4 linked regions of the Homo sapiens genome follow. The protein of the gene in region 4 interacts with the protein of the main gene of each other region in a biochemical or structural test. Each region holds a gene or a part of one and is shown on either strand. Other genes may lie near its edges.

Region 1 (5,081 bases), on a different chromosome or scaffold from region 4:
AGAAGCACTTGAACCCAAGAGGTGGAGGTTGCAGTGAGCTGAGATCACACCACTGCACTCCAGCCTGGGTGACAGAGCGAGACTCCATGTCAAATAAATAAATTAAATAATCATACTAATAAAAAATAAAGCTGAGGAAACTGAGGCTCCAGGCAGATAAGGCTGAGCAGGGAATCAAACCCAGGTGTACCTAAGGCCAGATCACATGTGGTCTGTGGCTGGACCATGTTTGCCAGGCATTCGCTAGGGGCTGCCCCTCTGCCAAGGCCTGGGGCAAGAACATATTGGACCCTCCACCTGGGCTGCACCCTGAGCTGAGGAAGATGTTAGGAGCTGACACCCAGGGGGCCTGTGTCTCATCCCGTCTTCACAGGCTCAAGGCTCAGAGCCTAAGTTTGATCATGACTGAGCACTTCAGAGCCAGGGCAGCCCACTGGCCCTTCTAGAAGGTTCCTAAGTCATTGCTTCATCCAGCCTCCCGGATGTGGCTTCATGACAGTGTCATGAGAGCTGGTCAGGGGAGGCACTGCATCCCCAGCCTGGGGTGAGAACTCTAGAGGCCTCAGGAAATTGCTGGGTGATGCAGGGTGAGGCAGGGAGGCTCCAGCTGAGCCTCCTCCCTCATCTTGCAGAGATGGTGCCACTGAGTCACCTCGAAGAAGAACAGCCCCCAGCACCTGAGTCCCCAGAGGTGAGTAGCAGAGGCTGGGGGACCCCCGCTCATCTTGTTCTTTCCAGAGTGGACCAGGCACCCGCAGAAAGGGCTGGGTTTGCCGAGGTCTTGCATGTAGCTTAATTAGCATCGGTGACTTTGGAGGCAAGGTGACGGCACGTGGGACTGCCCTGCCTTGGAAGTCGGGTGGGGGCAGTGCTGGAGGGGCACTGGACAGGTGAGTTTTGCAGGACGTGTAAGAATTTCCCAGGAGGAGGGCACAGCTGTGAGCAAAAAAGTACAGAAAGTCAGAAGCTGAGTTGGAGAAGTTTGGACAGGGGAGGAGGTAGCATCGGGCACCAGGACCAGTGGTTTGGGCTTGGGGGCAGGAGAAGCCTTCCCAGCTCTGCAGCGGGGCAGGACCCTAAGCCCTTCCCATCCCCTAGAGCCGCGCCCTGGTCGGCCAGTCACGGAGGAAGCCATGCGAAAGCGACTTTGAGACCATCAAACTCATTAGCAACGGAGCCTATGGGTGAGTCCCTGAGTCCTGCATAGACCCATTTCACAGATGCCTGAGGGGATGGTTGAGGCCCAGGCAGCTCCTGCATCCCCCTCCTACCCCAGCAGGGCTCACACATTCATCCTTGAATGGGCAGAGAAGGCACCTGAGGACTGGAGGGGGAAGTGGAGACACGCCATAGCGAGGTTACAGCCTCATGTGTGCTCTGTCCACGAGCCAGGCCTTTACCTGCCCCAGGTGTAGGGCGTTCTAGGGGCTTGGGGGCTGATCAAGGAAATAGATGCCCACCCAGTGGGAGTAGCACGCAGTGAGCTTTATTTAGGTGCTGCTTTGAATGGCAGGCTTGCATACAAGGGAAGTCCCTCATAGCATAAGCCTTTTGGAGGCTGAGGTTCCAGGAGTCACCATCAAGAGGGAGAGGCCGGCAAGGGAACTCCCCGGGCAGAGGGGGATCAGAGAGGGGGCTTACATGTCTAGGTGATGTTGTTCAACAGCATGGGCACTCAATCTCTGGGTCAGAGACTCCCTGCAGGGTGGTAGCAGCTTAGGGTCTTGAAATCCACAAAGTTCATCTTATCCATGGCTCAGAGATGGTGCAGTTTCACGAGTCTGCAAAGCAGACAGGCTCTCAGTGGCTAAAATTTTGCTTACTTGGTCTGTGTGTAAAACAAACGGATGTGTAAAACTTTGAGTTTGGTGCTAGCGGTCTTTTAAAAGAGCTAGACCAGGTGCGGAGGCACTTTGGGAGGCCAAGGTAGGAGGATCGCTTGAGGCCAGGAGTTCGAGACCAGCCTGGGCAACATGGCAAAACTCCATCAATACTAAAAATAGAATAATTAACTGGGCGTAATGGCACATGCCTGTAATTCCAGCTACTTGGGAGGCTGAAGTTGGAGGATCACCTGAACCCAGGAGGCAGAGGTTGCAGTGAGCCGAGATCACCCCACTGCACTCCAGCCTGGGTGACACAGTGAGACCATCTCAAAAAAAAAAAAAAAGGAAAGAAAGAAAGAAAGAAATACACAAGCAGCCAGGTGCAGTGGCTCTCGCCTATAATCCCAGCACTTTGGGAGCCCGAAGTGGGAGGGTCACTTGAGGCCAGGAGTTTGAGACTAGCCTCCACAACATAGCGAGACCCCATCTCTACAAAAAATTTAAACATTAGCCAGGTTCTGTTGTGGGAGGATCATTTGAGCCGGGGGGGTGGTAAAGACTATAGTGAGCCGTGATCTCATGACTGTGCTCCAGCCTGGGCAACAGAGTGAGGCGCTATCTCAAAAAACATAAGATAAAATAAAAATAAAAGAAACATACAACCTAGAGGCCAATATACAAGGGCCATGTGCAGCCCATTTATATGGCCCCCAGCCATGGTGGCTTAAACCCAAAGGTGGCTGCTCTGGGAGGGGGAACAGGTAAGGAGAATGGGTGGCCCAGGTGGAGGGCACAGCACAGGCAAAGGCCAGGCAGGTTGGGATCTGGGCTCAAGTTGAGCTGTAGTGCCTGCTGGGGCCTCGATCTCCGGTCCCAGCAAGCCTGGCCCTCTGTCCCCAGGGCCGTCTACCTGGTGCGGCACCGTGACACACGGCAGCGCTTTGCCATCAAGAAGATCAACAAACAGAACTTGATCCTGCGTAACCAGATCCAGCAGGTCTTTGTGGAGCGTGACATTCTCACCTTTGCCGAGAACCCCTTTGTGGTCAGCATGTTCTGCTCCTTTGAGACCCGGCGCCACCTATGTATGGTCATGGAATACGTGGAAGGTACGCTCACTGGGGCTTGCATGCCTCCAGCGATGGGGAGCTCACCCCTCCACGCCTGGGAGAAAATTTTTAGACCAAGTTGAGGTCTGTTCTGTCCTCCATGAGGTCTCACCCTGCTTTGGGGAACCCTCAGGAACCCCAGTCTGGGGTAGGGAGCCCAGCCATGGGGGTTTAGGGCTGGAGGAGCCCAGACAGGAGTGTGTGAGGATGGGACCCTGGAGGCAAGAGGAGGGTGGCCATCCTAGGTGGGGGGAACTGATGGGCAGAGGCCTGGAGACCAGAAGTGAAGGCAGGGAGATGTATGGTTCAGGCAGGTAAAGTACTATTACCAAAGTACTGCCAGGCGAGAGAGCGAACATGCACTTAGGAGACACCAGCTGTATACAGCACTAATTGCTGCCCTGTCGGGGAGAATCAGAAGGCAGGGTCTCAGCTTGGCGCGCTGGCTCACGCCTGTAGTCCCAGCACTTTGGGAGGCCGAAGTGGGCTGATCGCTTGAGGTCAGGACTTCGAGACCAGCCTAAGCAACATGGCGAAACCCCCATTCACGCCTATAGTCCCAGCTACTCGGGAGGCTGAAGCAGGAGATTCGCTTGAACTCTAGAGGCGGAGCTTGCAGTGAGCCGAGACTGCGCCACTGCACTCTAGCCTGGGCAACAGAGCGGGCAACAGAGTGAGACTCTGTCTCAAAAAAATAAATAAAAATTTAAAAAATAGGCCAGGCGCGGTGGCCAACGCCTGTAATCTCAGCACTTTGGGAGGCCAAGGCTGGTGGATCACGAGGTCAAGAGATCGAGACCATCCTGACCAACATAGTGAAGCCCCATCTCTACTAAGAATACAAAAATTAGCTGGGTGTGGTGGTGTGCGCCTGTAATCCCAGCTACTCTGGAGGCTGGGGCAGGAGACTCGCTTGAACCCGGGAGGCGGAGGTTGCAGTGAGCCGAGATCGCGCCACTGCACTCCAGCCTGGCGACAGAGCGAGACTCTCTCTCAAAAAGAAGAAAAAATTAAAAAATTAAAAATAAATGAAGGTAGGGTCCGCCCCTTCCCTCTCCCCCGACCCTCCCCGCTGAGATAGAACAAACTGGGGACCTTTTGCAGGAGGTAAAGCGAGGAGGATGCATAGGCATTGGGCATAACCTAAGGGGCGGGCGGGGGGCGGGGGTGCCCCGGGCCTCATGACTACATCCGCCCTTCTCCCAGGCGGCGACTGCGCCACGCTCCTGAAGAACATGGGCCCGCTGCCCGTGGACATGGCCCGCCTGTACTTCGCCGAGACGGTGTTGGCGCTGGAGTACCTGCATAACTATGGCATCGTGCACCGTGACCTCAAACCAGACAAGTGAGCTGAGCTAGCATGAGCGGGGCCTCGCGGAGGGCGGGGCCAGAGAGGATCAGGGGCGGGGCCAAAGAGGATCAGGGCAGAGCCTCTGAGGTGCATCCCGGGACCCTTCAGGAGCCCCATCTGTCTGAGCTCTGTTGGTACCTCCTGACAGGAAGGCAGGGAATGAGCGCATGGTGAACATCTTGTGTGTACAGAGGAGAGGAGAGCAGACACTTAATAGGCGTCTGCTGTATGCAGGGGAAGGCCGGTGCACTTATGGAGGTGCTGCCAATCCAGGGGAGAGGATGTGCACTTAGGATGCACACACTGTATACAGGAGAAGGGGCTGCGCACCCAGAGCTGCTGCTGCACAAGGGGAGAGAACATGCACTTATAAGACACCAACTACACACACAGAACAGGATTATGCAATTTGCGAGACCTTACATGTAAAGACAGTGACCGTGCATGTCTTGAGCACCTGCTGTATATTAGTGCAGGAAAGCAAGGAAGAGAACGTGTTTACTGAGAGCCTTAGGATGTTTATTTTATTCTGGTAGGTGGTAAGCACCTACTGCATGCCAGACCCTCTGTGGGCAACTGGGAGACACAGGGCCACCTGCTTTGAAACCCCTGTATTATTTTCTCCTCTGCATTTATTGAGCGCCTGCTGTGTGCAGGGAAAAAGGAATGCCTGTTTGTCAGGTGTCCTCGAGATACGAGGCAAGAACTGACATTTCTCACATACATGTGTGGAGATGTGAACATGAGTGTTAAGAGCCTTGCATGTAGGCCAGGCTTGGTGGCTCACACCTGTAA
Region 2 (5,081 bases), on a different chromosome or scaffold from region 4:
ATGCTCATGGGTCTTTTATTAATCAACCTAGCATACTTCTCTGCACGAAAAATATACATAAATTGACTTTCATAAAATTTCCCATGACCTGGAGTTGCTAAGTATTTAAAAAAATTACTTCTGAATTGAAAAAGCTGTACAGTCATTGCTGGGGCGCAGTTGGTCAAAAACTATAAATATATTACAGATTTTTAGAAATGGAAAAGGGGAGCTGTTACTGGAGCTGCCTCTCTGAGTGAGAAGGCAGTGGGTGTTTTTGGTGTTTTAATTGAAGCCCTAGTTGCATTAGCCCTTTTGTTTTGGTATCAGGAGGGCCCTTCACCTGGAGCTGCACCACCCCCTCACCAGCTTCCGGGGGATAGCTATGCCTTTCTTATGTAAAAGAGCCTCAGGGATGTTAGGGAGGGGAGGTGGGCAGGGGATCCAAGGCCTTTCTCCACTGAGCAATTTCAGGAAAGACTTGGCTACCCTTTAGACTGAGCTGGGTCTACGTGGAAAGGGTCCTTGCACCTCAGTTTGAAGCCCCCTGCAAGGGAGATCTTAGTTCACAAGATTACACCTGTACTCAAGGTCCTGCAGGTGATTCTTACCTGGGGACAGTGATGATACTTACGTGAAGGCAGTGACATGTGATGCCAGGTGTGTGCTCTGCATACTGCCAGGCTTTGCTGCCTCCCTGCAGACTTGGGGGTGTCCTGCCCCACGTCTTCCTCACTCCGGCTCATCAGTCCCCTCCTCTTCTCAAGGAGAATCCAGAGTCAGCACCTAGAGTCCTCGGTGGGGGTGGGGAATGGCCAAGAGTCTGGACAGCTGGCAGTCTGCTCCCTGGTCCACTGGGGTGGGTCCTGGGAGGCTTAGGGCCCAAGGAATGGGGTGCAGGGCATCCTGGGTTTCCAGACCTGGAGCTGACACAGACTTCCGGGCTCCTGGGAGGTGGGAAATGAGCTTCCAAGCCTGTCTTTCCTGAAAATCCTGCCCTGGATTCCTTCCCTGGGGAGAATGCAGGCTTCCTGGGGAGTGGAGGGGGATGCTTCTGTGGCCTCATTTGTACCCCTGAGAGCATAGGGCTCAGCCGTTCCTGTCCATGTTTTTCCTGCCACCCCGCACAAATGTCCCTGGGATTTGAAGAATCTGCTCCACTCCCCTCTTCCCGTACAGGGGCCTGCAAACTAGAGGCATTTGCCCCTGGGCCAGCCGGGCTCCTGTCTGACCCCTCCTCACGAGGTGGACAGGTCCCCCAGGAAAGGGACCACGCCTTGCTCCTGTCTGCATTTCAAGGTCCTACAGTGGCCCCAAGCATGGACCAGGGGACTTTGGCAGGGGAAGATACTGACCCGATGGCGTCGCTACTGCCCCTCGTCTTGGTTCTGGACTTTCCCTCCCTCGAGGGTCATTCAGCTCCAGTGGCTGAACTTGCCGAAGGTCGTGTGGCCCAGCTGGGATCCACACCTGGCGGCTGCCCACTCCACCGTGCAGAAGAAGGCACCGGTCGCTTCCCCGGCCTCCAGATTGCCTCCTGGGTGGCACACCAGTTTATTTTTCTGTTCACTTTCAGGTAAAGCAGATGAGGTAGCACAGTGGTTGTCAGACTTCTAGCTTAAGGAATCTTTTTTGCTCTCTTAGCATTTTGAAGGACCCAGAAGCTTTTTATGTATGAGCACGAATCTATTGTTATTTACGCTATTAGAATTTACAAATATCTAATTATTAATGCATTTAAAAATAGTAATAAACTCATGACATGTTGGTATAAATAATGTGTTTTTATGGATAACAACTATTTTCAAAATAAGAAAAACACTTGGTGAGGCCGGTCGAGGTGGCTCAGGCCTGTAATCCCAGCACTTTGGGAGGCTGAGGCAGGAGGATTGCTTGAGGCCAGGAATTTGAGACCAGCCTAGGCAATATAATGAGACCCCATCTCTACAAAAAATAAAAAATTAGCCAGGTGTAGTGGCACGCACCTGTGGTCCCAGCTACTCAGGAAGCTGAGGTGGGAGGATTACCTGAGCCTGAGAGGTCGATGTTGCAGTGAGCCGTGATCACGCCACTGTACTCTAGCCTGGGTGACAGAGTGAGGAAAAAAAATAGTGCAGTGGCTCACACCTGTAACCCCAGCACTTTGGGAGGCCGAGACGGGTGGATCACTTGAGGTCAGGAGTTCGAGACCAGCCTGGCCAAAATGGTGAAACCCCATCTCCACTAAAAATACAAAAATTAGCCAGGCACAGTGGGGCACACTTGTAGTCCCAGCTACTCAGAAGGCTAAGGCACAAGAGATCACTTGAACCCGGCAGGCGGAGGTTGCAGTGAGCCAAGATTGCCCCACTGCACTCTAGCCTGGGCAACAGAGTGACAGTCCATCTCAACAACAACAAAAAAACACTTGGTGAGAAGAGTGGCATTGTTTAACATTTTTGTGGTCTTTTTGCTGTGAGGTTTAATGGAAGACAGCTGGGTTCCCGTATCTGCTCCTGCAGTCAGCTTGTTGCAATATCACAAGTTTTGTAGCTTCCGTTGTGCACTTGGGAGAGGATGAGCTTGAAAAAGCAGCTCCCATCTCAGTGTTATGATGAGAATGGTTTGACTTCATAGATCTCTCGAATAGGCTGGTTCCCGGGGCTGCACGCTGAGAGCCTCTGGGAGGAGCGTGTGATCCGCCTTGTCAGTGCATGGGTCCCGTTTGAAAGCTGGCTGTGCCATGTGGTCCAAAGGGTGCTTTGAATGATGCATGTACCTTTTCTTGTCGTTCAGGATATGTCTGTGGAGTTTAGTCAGGGGCTTCAGACAGCCACCAGCTGGTTCCGACCCCAGGGGCAGGCCCTCTGATTGTGGGGTCTAGGATGGTGGGAGCATGCAGAGGCACCTTCCAGGCTGTGGGGTCAAGGAGGCTGGCAGAGCCTAAGGCAGTTTAGGAGACTCTGAGAGAGCAGCCTGGCCAATTTATAGAGTGAGGCAGGCTTGCAAGTGTAGACAGGAGAGTGGAGAGGACTTTGTAGGTGTCTGGCTGCCCAAGGAAGCCTATAGTTTTCTTTTGAAGTCTGGTTTTGGTATCAGAGTAATACTGGCCTCATAAGATGACTTGGGAAGCATTGTCTTCCATTTTTTTCTGAAAAGTTTATGCAAAATTGGCCTTCATTCTTCTTTAAATGTTTGGTAGAATTCACCAATAAAGCCATCTGGGCCTAGGCTTTTCTTTGTGAAAACTTTTAAAATTATTGATTGGATCTCTGCTTGTCATAGGTCTTTTTAGATTTTCTGTTTCTTCTTGAGTCAAGTTTGTTAGTTTGTGTCCCACCAGAAATGTGTCCACTTCATGTGAGTTTCTCTAATGTGGTTGCTATGTAGTTGTTTGTAGCACCGTCTCATTATTATTATTGTTATTATTTTTTTGAGACAGAGTCTTGCTCTGTTGCCTAGGCTGGAGTGCAGTGGCGTGATCTCAGCTCACTGCAAGCTCCGCCTCCCGGGCTTACACCATTCTCTTGACTCAGCCTCCCGAGTAGCTGGCACTACAGGCGCCCACCACCAGGCCCAACTAATTTTTTTGTATTTTTAGTAGAGACGGGGTTTCACCGTGCTAGCCAGGATGGTCTTGATCTCCTGACCTCGTGATCCGCCCGCCTCAGCCTCCCAAAGTTCTGGGATTACAGGCATCAGCCACCACGCCCGGCCTGACTCCTTTTAATTCTGTAAGTTGGTAATAATGTCCCTTCTTTCATTCCTGAGTTTGGTAATTTGAGTCTTCCCTTCTTTTCTTGATCATTTCAGCTCAGGTTTGTAAATTTCGTTGATCTTTTCAAATAACCAACTTGTAGTTTCATTGATTTTCTTTATTGCTTTTCTAGCTTAGATTTCATTAACTTCAGCCCTAACCTTTATTATTTCCTTCCTTCTGCTAGCTCAGTTTCAGTTTCCCGTTCTTTTTCTGACTCTCACAAGGTGGAAGGTTTTGGTTATTGATTTGAGATTTTTCTTCTTTTTAACATAGACATTTACAGATCTGAATTTCCTTTAAGTACTGCTTTAGTTGTATTCCATAAGTTTTGATGTGTTTTGTCTTCTTTTTCACTCGTTTCAAAGTGTTTTCCAATTTCCCCGTGGTTTATTCTCTGACCCATTGGCTATTTAGATGTCTGTTTAATTTCCACATATTTGTGCATTTGTAAAATAAATTTCGAATTTCATTCTATTGTGGTTGGAGAACATTATTTGTATAATTTCAGTCCTGCTGATGTTTAATGAGGCTGTTTTATAGCCGGGCATGAGGCCTCTCCTGGAGAATGTTCCACGTGCCCTTGAGAAGAATGAGTATTCTGCCGTCTTTTGTGGCATGTGCTGCAGGTGTCTGCTAGGCTGCTCTAGACTCTGGGATACAACAGTGAACCAGACAGACAAATATTTCTGCCCTTGTAGGGTCGACATCCTCGCCAGGGGAGCAAACAATAATTAAAGGAGATCATAAATAAGCAGTGATGTAGTGTGGGAGGAAAGGAGAGCTTGCTGGTGGGGGCTGGGAGCCAGGGGGGCTGCTGTTTTAGCAGGATGGTCGGGGTGAGCTGCATTGAGGTAGCGGTCCTTGAGCAAACACTTAAAGGAGGTAAAGGAAGCGGTGTGTGATACAGGAAGAGTTCAGTGGAAATTGAGAGCACTTTTTTTCCCAATGCACATTTTATAAATTGTGCAAAATACCTATAACATAAAAAGTTACCCTTTTCACCATTTTTAGGTGTGTAGTTCTGAGGCATTAAGGATGCTCATCGTGCTCTGCAGCCATCGTCACCATGTATCTGTAGAACTCTTCAGCTTGCAGAACTGAAACTACGTCCCCACTAAACACTAGCAAACCAGCCCCCTTCTCCCAGCCCCTGGCGACCACCAGTCTGTTTTCTGTCTCTTTGACTTCTGTAGGGACCTCATCCAAGTGGAATCATGCAGTGTTTGTCTTTTTGAGTCTGGCTTAATTCACTCAGCATAATGTTCTCAAGCCTCATCCATGTTGTAGCGTGTGTCAGAATTTCCTTCCTTTTTGTGGCTGAGTAATATTCCATTGTGTGGATGGGCCACATTTTGTTTATACA
Region 3 (5,081 bases), on a different chromosome or scaffold from region 4:
TAAGCAGAGCCTTTACACCCCCACATGGAGCTTTCAGTTCAACTCAGAATCCACAACATATTTCAGAATCATTTCATTTTTCCTGATAGTTGAAGATAATCCTCAAAATAATTTAATTAAACACTGATGTTTACAAACTGTTTTGAGTGTTCAGATGCTGAAGCTAATTTTCTTTCTTCCATTCATGTATCCCTTTTTTTTTTTTTTTTTTTTTAAGATGCAGTCTCACTCTGTCGCCCAGGCTGGAGTGCAGTGGCACAATCTCAGCTCACTGCAAACTCTGCCTCCTGGGTTCACGCCATTCTCCTGCCTTAGCCTCCCCAGTAACTGGGACTACAGGCGCCCGCCACCACGCCCGGCTAATTTTTTGTATTTTTAGTAGAGACGGGGTTTCACCGTGCTAGCCAGGATGGTCTCGATCTCCAGACCTCGTGATCCACCCGCCTTGGCCTCCCAAAGTGCTGGGATAACAGGCTTGAGCCACTATGCCCGGCCTCACGTATCCCTTTTACTGAACGTGAAGGTGGGCTTCCTCCCACCCCAAAAGCATTACTGTGATCCCTTCTCTTCTTTAGAGTGACAAAAACACATACATGTACTGCACACATGTACCTGTAAAGATGTCTGGAAGGAACTTAATCAAAATATCAATAGTGCTTATATACAGGTGTAGGATTGCATTTTTTTCTTTATGTTGTTCTGTATATTTAAAATTTTTGTTAAGTCCATAGTATTTATTTTAAAAACGTATTTAAGAAATGAAGAAAACTTATTCTGAGACCTTGTTCAAACTCTATCTTAATTTTATTTTTGAGACAGGGTCTCACTCTGTCCCTCAGGTTGCAGGGCAGTGGCACAATCATAGCTCACTGTAACCTCAAATTCTTGGGTTCAAGTGATCCTGCCTCAGCCTCCTGAGTAGCTGCAACTATAGGCACACACCGACACATCTGGCTAACTTTTTAATTTTTTGTAGAGACAAGGTCTTGCTATTTTGCCCAGGCTGATCTCAAACTCCTGGCTTCAAGCAACCCTCCCGCCTTAGCCTCTCAAAGCGTTGGGATTACAAGCATGAGCCACCACCCAGCCTGTTGCTCAAACTTTAAACATGAAAGACATGTAAACGGAAATCTTGAGGCTTCAAAAACTATAATGCACTGGATAGGATCCAAAATCCAACTGATTCTTACTGAATTCTAAGCTCTAATGAATAAGGTTATGAAGAGTTCCATGTTTGGGGCATGAGGCAGCATCTGATTTTAAACTGAATGCAAGTGGCTTCTTTTTTTTTTTTTTTTTTTTTTTTGAGACAAGGTCTGGCTCTATCACCCAGGTTGAAGTGCAGTGGCATGATCTCAGCTCACTGCAACCTCCGCCTCCTGGGCTCAAACCATCCTCCCATCTTAGCCTCCTGAGTGGCTGAGACTACAGGTGCACACCACCATACCCACCTAATTTTTGTACTTTTAGTAGAGACAGGGTTTTGCCATTTGCCCAGGCTGGTCTCTAATTGGTGAGCTCAAACAATCCACCCGCCTTGGCCTCCCAAAGGGCTGGGATTATAGGTATGAGCCACTGCACCCCACCTGTTAAGTGGCTTTTTTTTTTTTAGTAGAGACGGGGTTTCACCATGTTGGCCAGACTGCTTGCCAACTCCTGACCTCAAGTGATCTGCCCACCTCGGAGTCTCCCAAAGTGCTGGGATTACAGGCTTGAGCCACCACGCCCACCCTGGCTTTTTAAAGCTTATCTAGGCTGGTGCTGAGCATGGTGGCTCACACCTGTAATCCCAGCACTTTGGGAGGCCGAGGTGGGTGGATCACGAGGTCAGGAGTTCAAGACCAGTCTGGCCAAGATGGTGAAACCCCATCTCTACTAAAAAATATAAAAATTTGCCGGGTGCGGTGGCAGGCACCTGTAATCCCAGCTACTGGGGAGGCTGAGGCAGGAGAATTGCTTGAACCCAGGTGGCAGAGGTTGCAGTGAGCTGAGATTGTGCCACTGCACTCCAGCCTGGGCTAGAAAGTGAGGCTCCATCACAAAAAAAAAAAAAAAAAAAAAAAAAAGCTTATCCAGGCCGGGCACGGTGGCTCATACCTGTAATCCCAGCACTTTGGGAGGCCAAGGCGAGTGGATCACTTGAGGTCAGGAGTTCAAGACCAGCCTGGCCAACATGGCGAAAGTCCATCTCTACTAAAAATACAAAATTAGCCAGGTGTGGTGGCGGGCACCTGTAATCCCAGCTACTTAGGAGGCTGAGGCAGGAGAACTGCTTGAACCCGGGAGGCAGAGGTTACAGTGAGCCAAGGTCATGCTATTGCACTCCAGCCTGGACAACAAGAGCAAAACTCCATCTCAAACAAACAAACAAATAAACAAAACGAAACGAAACAAAAACCTTATCCAAAAAGGATACATAATAGGGCAGACACAGCCTACGGCTGCAAACACACATATTTGGATAAATGGATCAACCTCTTTTATAAACATCAACTTCTCATATAATCGTTATGTTCCTTTTTATCTCTAACTCTTACCTTTTCCATGCCCCAACTGGTGATCTTTACTATGAGTTTAAGTGAAACTAAGTTAGTCACACAACATTATTTCCCCTGCTTTTGCAAGCAAGTTTGTTCCTGGATTATTCTCAGAGTGGAATATCTGGCTGTGCATTTTGCACAGGAATGAGTTATGTTGACAGTCACTGTTAAAGTATTCTCTCAGGAGGATTCTCTCCAACCTCATCCCAAGCTCTTCTCTCAAGTCAGGAGGCTGATAAATGACCACCAAAAACACGAGGAAGGAATTGCTTTGCTTTGAGTAAAAAGCCTTTTACATTCTCAACTTGCAGGTGTCTTTCAGCTCAAGTCTCCTGGCCATTTGGGGTTTGAGTAGACTGCAGTCTAGAGTCTGGTGACATGAACCTTGAATGAGTTCAGAGTGACTCTTTCACTCTTCCTCTTCATTCTAAAATAACATAGCAAATTCACTAATTTATTGAGCTCCTACTATATACCAGGAACTGTTTTAGGCATGTAGAATTATTAGCCAGTGAATAAAATATGCAAAAAATAATAATGTAATTAATAATTTAATGAAATTCTAGAGAAATGAAAACTTACATTCACACAAAAGCCTGTACACTAATGTTCTTAGCAGCTCTATTCGTAAGTACCACAGCTGGAAACAACCCAAATTTCCTTCAATGGAAGTGAATGGATAAACTGTGATACAGCTATAGAATAGAACACTATTCAGAAATAAAAAGGAACAAACTATTTATAACTCAGTAACTTGGATGAATCTGAAAGGCATTATACCAGTCTCAAAAGTTGTATGACCCCATTATTGAAAAGAAAAAAATATATGATGAAAAATTCAGTGGTTTCTAGCCAGGCGTCGTGGCTCATGCCTGTAATCCCAGCACTTTGAGAGGCTAAAGTGAGCAGATCACTTGAGGTTAGGAGTTCAAGACCAGCCTGGCCAACATGGTGAAACCCCACCTCTGCTAAAAAAACAAAAATTAGCCAGGCATAGTGGTGCACGCCTGTAAGCCCAGCTACTCAGGAGGCTGAGGCAGGAGGCTTGAACCCAGGAGGCAGAGGTTGCAGTGAGCTGAGATTGCGCCACTGCACTCCAGCCTGGGCAACAGAGCGAGACCCTGCCTTGACTAAATAAATAAATAAATAAATAAATAAAAATAAATTCAGTGGTTTCTAAGGGTTAGGGGTGAGAAGGGATATGATTATAAAGGGATAGCACAACAGAGTTTTCTGAAACCATGGAATGGTCCTGTATCCTGATTGTGGTGACAGTTACAAGAATTTATGTATGTGTCCAGATTCATAGAACTGTATACCTTAAGGGGAAAAAATTCAATTGTACAGTATGATAATTACAAAATAAAATAAGTAAATTATACAGTATATTGGAAGATGTTAAGTGTAATGGGAAAATGAAACACAGCAAGGGAAGGGGTCAGAAATGCTGCCCAGGGTGTCAGTTTGTAAATTTTAAATATGGTAGTTAGGGTAAGCCATTAATAAGATGTTTGAACAAAGACTTTAGGAGATGGGGGAGTTGGCCATGCAAATATCTGGGAGAAACATTCCAGCCAGGGAGACAGTGTTAGGACAGTAACAGGAGTTACTAACAGGAGTGTTAGACAGTAAGGAGACCCAGAGTAACTGGAGCTGGGTAAGTGAGGGGGACAGAGTAGTAAATGGGGTCACAAAGGTAACGGGGCTGGGAGGCAGACCATGTACGGCCTTTTAGGTCATGGCAAGGACTTTGGCTTTTATTCTGAAACAGGAAGCTATTGGGAGATTTTCAGGAGCAAGTGACCACTATGTTGAAAATAGAATAAAAGAAGGCCAAGGCAAAAGCAGGAAGACCAGCTGGCAGGTTAACAGGGATGAGAGATGATAGGAGTTGGACCAGGGGAATAGTAGTGGAGGTGGTGAGAAGTGGTCAGATTCTACATCAGATTACATAAGGGGGTGGCAAAAAGAAGAGTCAAGGATAATGTCAAGATTTTTGTCCCGAACAAGGCTAGAAGGATAGCGTTCCCCTTGACAGCTTTAGAAGAAAGATCAGGAACTTGAGACATACATTAGACAATCAAGTCTAACAGGCAGCTAGATATATAAGTCTGCAGTTCAGGAAATGGGTGTAGGCTAAAAACATAAATTTGGGAGCTATTAGCATATAGTTGCTATTTAATGCCATGAAACTGGATAAGATCACTGTATCAGTCAGGATCCCAGCAGGAAACGATAGTAAGGGATTTAATAAAGGGACAACTTATGAAGATGTGGGCAGAGTGCAGGGAAACCACATGGAAAAATAGAGTGTAGTATCCCATGGCTATTAGCTGTTTCCACATGTAGGCCTGAAGGAAATAGGAAAGAGAGTGGGTACCAAACCCAGAAGAAAAGAGCCCTATAGAGACCGATGTGAGAGGAGCAGTGACTTTCAGTCAATTCAGCCAGATTGCACTGACCTGCGAATTGGGGGCCAAGGGGATAAATGCTCCAACCTCACCCTCCTCCTTCTTTCCCTCCAATGTCCTATTGGGGCTC
Region 4 (5,081 bases):
GACCAATTCACCTTATACCTTTTACCACATGCTCAAAGATATGTGCTTAAGGAGATAATGATGAACATACAAATGAGAAAATTTTAAACTTTCTATTTTCTAGGAAGATTCAGCCATTTTACAAATATTTAAGGTATAAATGTTTTAAGGCCTAAATAGGTAAAATAAAGTCAGGGAAAGGTTTACCTGAGGTGGTAGATATTTATGAGTAGAGCAAATCACAAAATACTTAAGTATATGCAGCATAACAGCACAAAACCTAGTGAAAGAGCCTCAGAAGTTTAAGACAGAAAGTTTAATGGTAAGAACACAAAACAAGAGATTGAATCAAAGATCTGTTTAGCTTTGGACTCCCTCACAGGTATAGCTCTAAGACTGCAGAACCTTTTTTGTTTAATCAAAAAGCCTATACTAAAAGGATCACAAGATTTCTTAATTCATGTACATCTATCATCCGTAAGTTGATCTAAACTATTCTTAAACCTCCAGTTTTAAATAACAGCAGCATTTGAGGATAATGATGAGCACCTGCATATCATTTTATTATGAAAAATATATTTTTCAAATTTCAAGGGTTGAAAGTTTAGCTCTTGAAAGTTTAGAATTTAGTAAACAAGTCAATCTTCACCTTTTCCATAACATATTCTAATCTATCGAATAAGAATAGATTTATGAAATCTGAATACTCAACCATGCAAAAAGCTGGTTCATTAAAAAGACTAATAGAAAAAAGGCAAATTTCTGATGAGATTACACAAGAAAAAATAAAGACAATATCACAAATAAAAATGGAAACAAAACTACAGATACAAGAGAAAAAATATGTAAGTAAATAAAATCTTTATGCAATCATTTAAGACAAAATGGTCAAAGACTTAGAAAAATCTAAGAAAACTGATGAATGAAGAAATTTAATCACCAGTTTAAAATGTTCCTACTAGAAATACAAAGTGCAGATGATTTTACAGGTGAGTTTACTAAGCTTTCAAAGAATTTACCATTCAATCTTATACAAACTGTTTCCCCAGGGAACAGAAAAGGTACTATGAGTCTCATATAACTTTAATTTTAAAAAATCAAAAGGGACAGTAGAAAAAGGAAAACCACAAGCCAACTTCACTTATATCAGATGCAAAAATTGAAATAAACTTTAATATTAGCAAACTGAATCCATCAGTTTATTTAAAAATACTACATCAAAACTATGTTGGATTTAACCAAGAAATGCAAACTTGATTTAACAAAAAAAATATAGACTTCTGGGTTAAAATTGTAGCTTAAACATACACATTGTTTTTATCCTTTCCAAGCCCACTAACATAATAGCAAATGGATATTTTTTAGACATACAAGCCAGCAAGAATGGAAATAACAGCAGAAGAGACAACAGCAACAAAATTTCAGAAGCTGGAAAGCAGAAGAAAGTAACTGACTTAGCCCCAATGAACTGCTTGCAAGTTATTTAAAAAGCACGTAGGCCTGGAAGGGTTAGCACACAACTATAATCACAACACTTTGGGAGGCCAAGTCAGGAGGATGACTTGAGACCAGGAGTTTGAGACCAGCCTGGGCAATATAGTGAGACCCCTTCTCTACAAAAAACTTTTAAAAGTCACATGTGGTGGCCCACGCCTGTAGTCCCAGCTACTTGGGAGGCTGAGGCAGGAGGATTGCTCAAACCAAGGAGTTTGAGGCTGCAGTGAGTTATGATGGCACCATTGCACTCCAGCCTGGGCAACAAAATGAGACCCTGTCTCTAAATAATAATGGTAAAAAACAGGTGGACTCGTAGATACCCTCCTTAATTCTGTACCAACTGGCAGCTGCCCACCCCCCTTCCCCAGCTTCTAAAGATGGTAGACTAGCTTTGGAAGGTATAAAACAAGTCTTTAGCCTGAGGTTTACTGTCAGTTGAGAACCTGTAATACAGAAGCAGGTTAATAATTAATCACCATATGCATACTAAATGCTCAATGAGTTTTTACATGTGCATATACCTGTGTTATCAACACCTAGATACCGAACATTTCTAGCACTCCAAGAGACTAAAGATGCTATTTTTAAAAAGATAATTAATTAAAAACAAGATAAAAACTCAATAGAATTGTTGAAAGATAAAGCTGGGGAAATCTCAGAAAAAAGATAGCGAATAAGAAAACCAAGCAAAAAAGAGGTAGATGAGAAATCAGTAAGTTCAACATTCAAATAATTGGATTCCAGATGGAGAACAGAGAAAAAGAGGTGAAAATCATCAACAAAGTAATTTTTAAAATAATGTCTCAGAAATTTAAGAACAGGAACTATTCAGATTCCAAGATCCCCACATCCACTCATGTCATTGTGAAATTTCAGAATGCTACCGACATACAGAAGATCATACCAGGATCCAGGACAGTGGGGGGGACAGATAACATAAAACGGATTACATATGAAGAATTAGCAGTCAAAAAGGCTTCATAATTCTCAACAGCAACAGTGTAAGCTAGAAAAAAAACAATGTCAGTGACTGATATTCTCAAAATTCTGGAGGGAAATTGTTTCCAAATGAGAATTGTAACCCAGAAAACCAAAAAGGGCCATTCAAGTATGAGTAAAATGAAAACATTTTTGGAAATGCAAATTCTCAAAAAAATATATCTTCTGTGCACCGATTCATGGGGAGCTACCAGATGTCCTAAATGAAAACGGGATGTAAATCAAGAAATAATAAGACACAAGATACCTAAAAACACAGGATATAATTCAGCAGAGAAGCATAGGAAATTTGCAGGTTATGGATAAAAGAAATCCCAGGTTGACAGGGCTGAATCAGGAGGAGTGTAGGGTCAGGCAGGCACTGCTGTTCTTCAAGATCAGCTATTTGCCCAGCACTTTGGGAGGCCGAGGCGGGCGGATCACGAGGTCAGGAGATCGAGACCATCCTGGCTAACACGGTGAAACCCCGTCTCTACTAAAAATACAAAAAATTAGCCGGGCGTGGTGGCGGGCGCCTGTAGTCCCAGCTACTCGGGAGGCTGAGGCAGGAGAATGGCGTGAACCAGGGAGGCGGAGCTTGCAGTGAGCCGAGATCGCGCCACTGCACTCCAGCCTGGGCGACAGAGCGAGACTCCGTCTCAAAAAAAAAAAAAAAAAAAAAGATCAGCTATTTGAAGCTTTTTGACTAAACCACATACAGTGTAACTTTGTTAAAAACACTTTACATTTAAAAACTTTTTTTAAAAAGGGGGAAAAAAATGAAACTAGCCATAAACCTGTGAGAATTTTTTTCTTTCAAAATAGGAGTTAACACTAAAAAACAAATTAGAAAACAATACCATACAAACATACAAAAAAAATGTTTAAACTGCAAAAATGCTTCAGGAATACCCATTGTATATAATTACTAAATTATTCTTAATTAGCCTCTTATTAAAGAAAGCATTTCTATCTGGAAACAATGTAAACCTAGATGAAGCTAAGATACGGAGGGTTGGACTAGTTAGACTGATTCCAAGAATGCATTAAGGAATATATATTGATGTAGTTGTTTGCCACTTAATAAACATGAAACTAGGTACAGAGTAATGATTAAAAGAAGTAATTTTGGGCTGGGCATGGTGGCTTACACCTGTAATCCCAGCATTTTGGGAGGCGAAGGCGGGCAGATCGCTTGAGGCCAGAGTTCGAGACCAGCCTGGCCAACATGGCAAAACCCTGTCTCTACTAAAAATACAAAAATTAGCTGGGTGTGATGGTACACGCCTGTAATCCCAGCTATTCAGGAGGCTGAGGCAGGAGAAGCGCTTGAACCTGGGAGGTCGTGCCACTGCACTCCAGCCTGGTCAACAGAGTGAGACTCTGTTTCAAAAAAATATATGAATAATAAAAAAGTAATTTAAAAAAACACTTTGTTGACAGCTATATTGGCACCATACTTGTTCGATTATTTCATTTTTCTTAACACAATATTCCTACTTTAAAATCATGTATTTACCCTTCTTAATAACAATGCCATAAGAAATGAAAATCTTTTACTTCTTTTAGAAGAGCATATCTTAGGAGGGCAACGCTGCAGAAAAGACAGCAGTCACTGACATCACCCAATACTGGCTTCCTCTTTGAGGTTTTCTCATGAAGAATCTGGTTTAATTACCACAAAGGAACCCTTTCCCCTGCCACTTCCCCTTCTTATGGAAGCCAAGGAAAAATTAAAAAGTAAATGACTTCCCCTTTAATAACCCATCAGGAGGAAGCTAGGAGAAAAGCAGAGGCAGAGCTACAGGCAAAGTTACAAAAGGGTCTAGGGACCGGAATACAGCCATCAGCCAGGATCAGGAGCAGACAACCGAATCTAAATACTGGAATTTTCAGACTACTTCTTTGTCTCCAAGTACAGTAGAATTATAGTTGCATGAAAAAAGGTTAATCTGAAATCTTATACTTACCTTTTCATTAGGTACACATTTACCCCAGTACCAAAGCCAAGCTTCTGCATAAACGGAGAGGCCGGGATATTTATAGTTGGAGTTGAACATAATACTAAATGTCAGAGAAATAAAAAATAAAATTAATAAAAAATAAAAATAAAGCATCTTAACATTCTCAATATACTACTGCCAAGAGTATTAATTGGCACAGTCTTTTTGGAGAGCAATTTGACAACATATATCCTAATTTTAAATGGGTATCTTTTGACCAAGCCTACTTTTGGAGTTTTATCCTACAGTAACTCTGAAGCAGAGATTGGGAAATGGCCTGTTTTTGTATGGCCTACAAGCTAAGAACTGTTTTCACATTTTTAAAACATTGTTAAAAGATAAAGGGGTTGGATGTGGTGGCTCATGCCTATAATCTCAACGCTTTTGGAGTCCGGGGCAGGAGGGTCACTTGAGCCCAGTAGAGACCAGCTTGGGCAACATAAAGAGACTCCATCTCTACACACGAAAAAATTTTTTTAATTAGCCAGGAATGATGGCACACACCTGTGGTCTCAGCTACTTGGGAGAAACACTTGAGCCCAGGAGGTTAAGGGTGCAGGTGCAGTGAGCTGTGTTCAGCCTGGGTGACAGAGCAAGACACAGTCTCAAAAAAAAAAAAAAAAA

The links. The genes of interacting proteins can lie anywhere in the genome.
Region 1: the proteins of PBK (region 4) and MAST3 interact in a test that uses a peptide from one of them, tested with the Homo sapiens proteins (one large-scale study listed by IntAct).
Region 2: the proteins of PBK (region 4) and SHANK2 interact in a test that uses a peptide from one of them, tested with the Homo sapiens proteins (one large-scale study listed by IntAct).
Region 3: the proteins of PBK (region 4) and SNTB2 interact in a test that uses a peptide from one of them, tested with the Homo sapiens proteins (one large-scale study listed by IntAct).

What each region holds. Positions count from the first base shown.
Region 1 is NC_000019.10:18,127,768-18,132,848, forward strand, and holds part of MAST3 (microtubule-associated serine/threonine-protein kinase 3), read left to right. Parts: intron 1-632; coding exon 633-691; intron 692-1,098; coding exon 1,099-1,184; intron 1,185-2,726; coding exon 2,727-2,935; intron 2,936-4,141; coding exon 4,142-4,280; intron 4,281-5,081.
Region 2 is NC_000011.10:71,242,007-71,247,087, reverse strand, and holds part of SHANK2 (SH3 and multiple ankyrin repeat domains protein 2), read left to right. Parts: intron 1-3,559; exon of another isoform or gene 3,560-3,692; intron 3,693-5,081. UniProt on the Homo sapiens protein: Seems to be an adapter protein in the postsynaptic density (PSD) of excitatory synapses that interconnects receptors of the postsynaptic membrane including NMDA-type and metabotropic glutamate receptors, and the actin-based cytoskeleton.
Region 3 is NC_000016.10:69,238,154-69,243,234, reverse strand, and holds part of SNTB2 (beta-2-syntrophin), read right to left. Parts: intron 1-5,081. UniProt on the Homo sapiens protein: Adapter protein that binds to and probably organizes the subcellular localization of a variety of membrane proteins. May link various receptors to the actin cytoskeleton and the dystrophin glycoprotein complex.
Region 4 is NC_000008.11:27,823,681-27,828,761, forward strand, and holds part of PBK (lymphokine-activated killer T-cell-originated protein kinase), read right to left. Parts: intron 4,519-5,081; coding exon 4,425-4,518; intron 1-4,424. UniProt on the Homo sapiens protein: Phosphorylates MAP kinase p38. Seems to be active only in mitosis. May also play a role in the activation of lymphoid cells.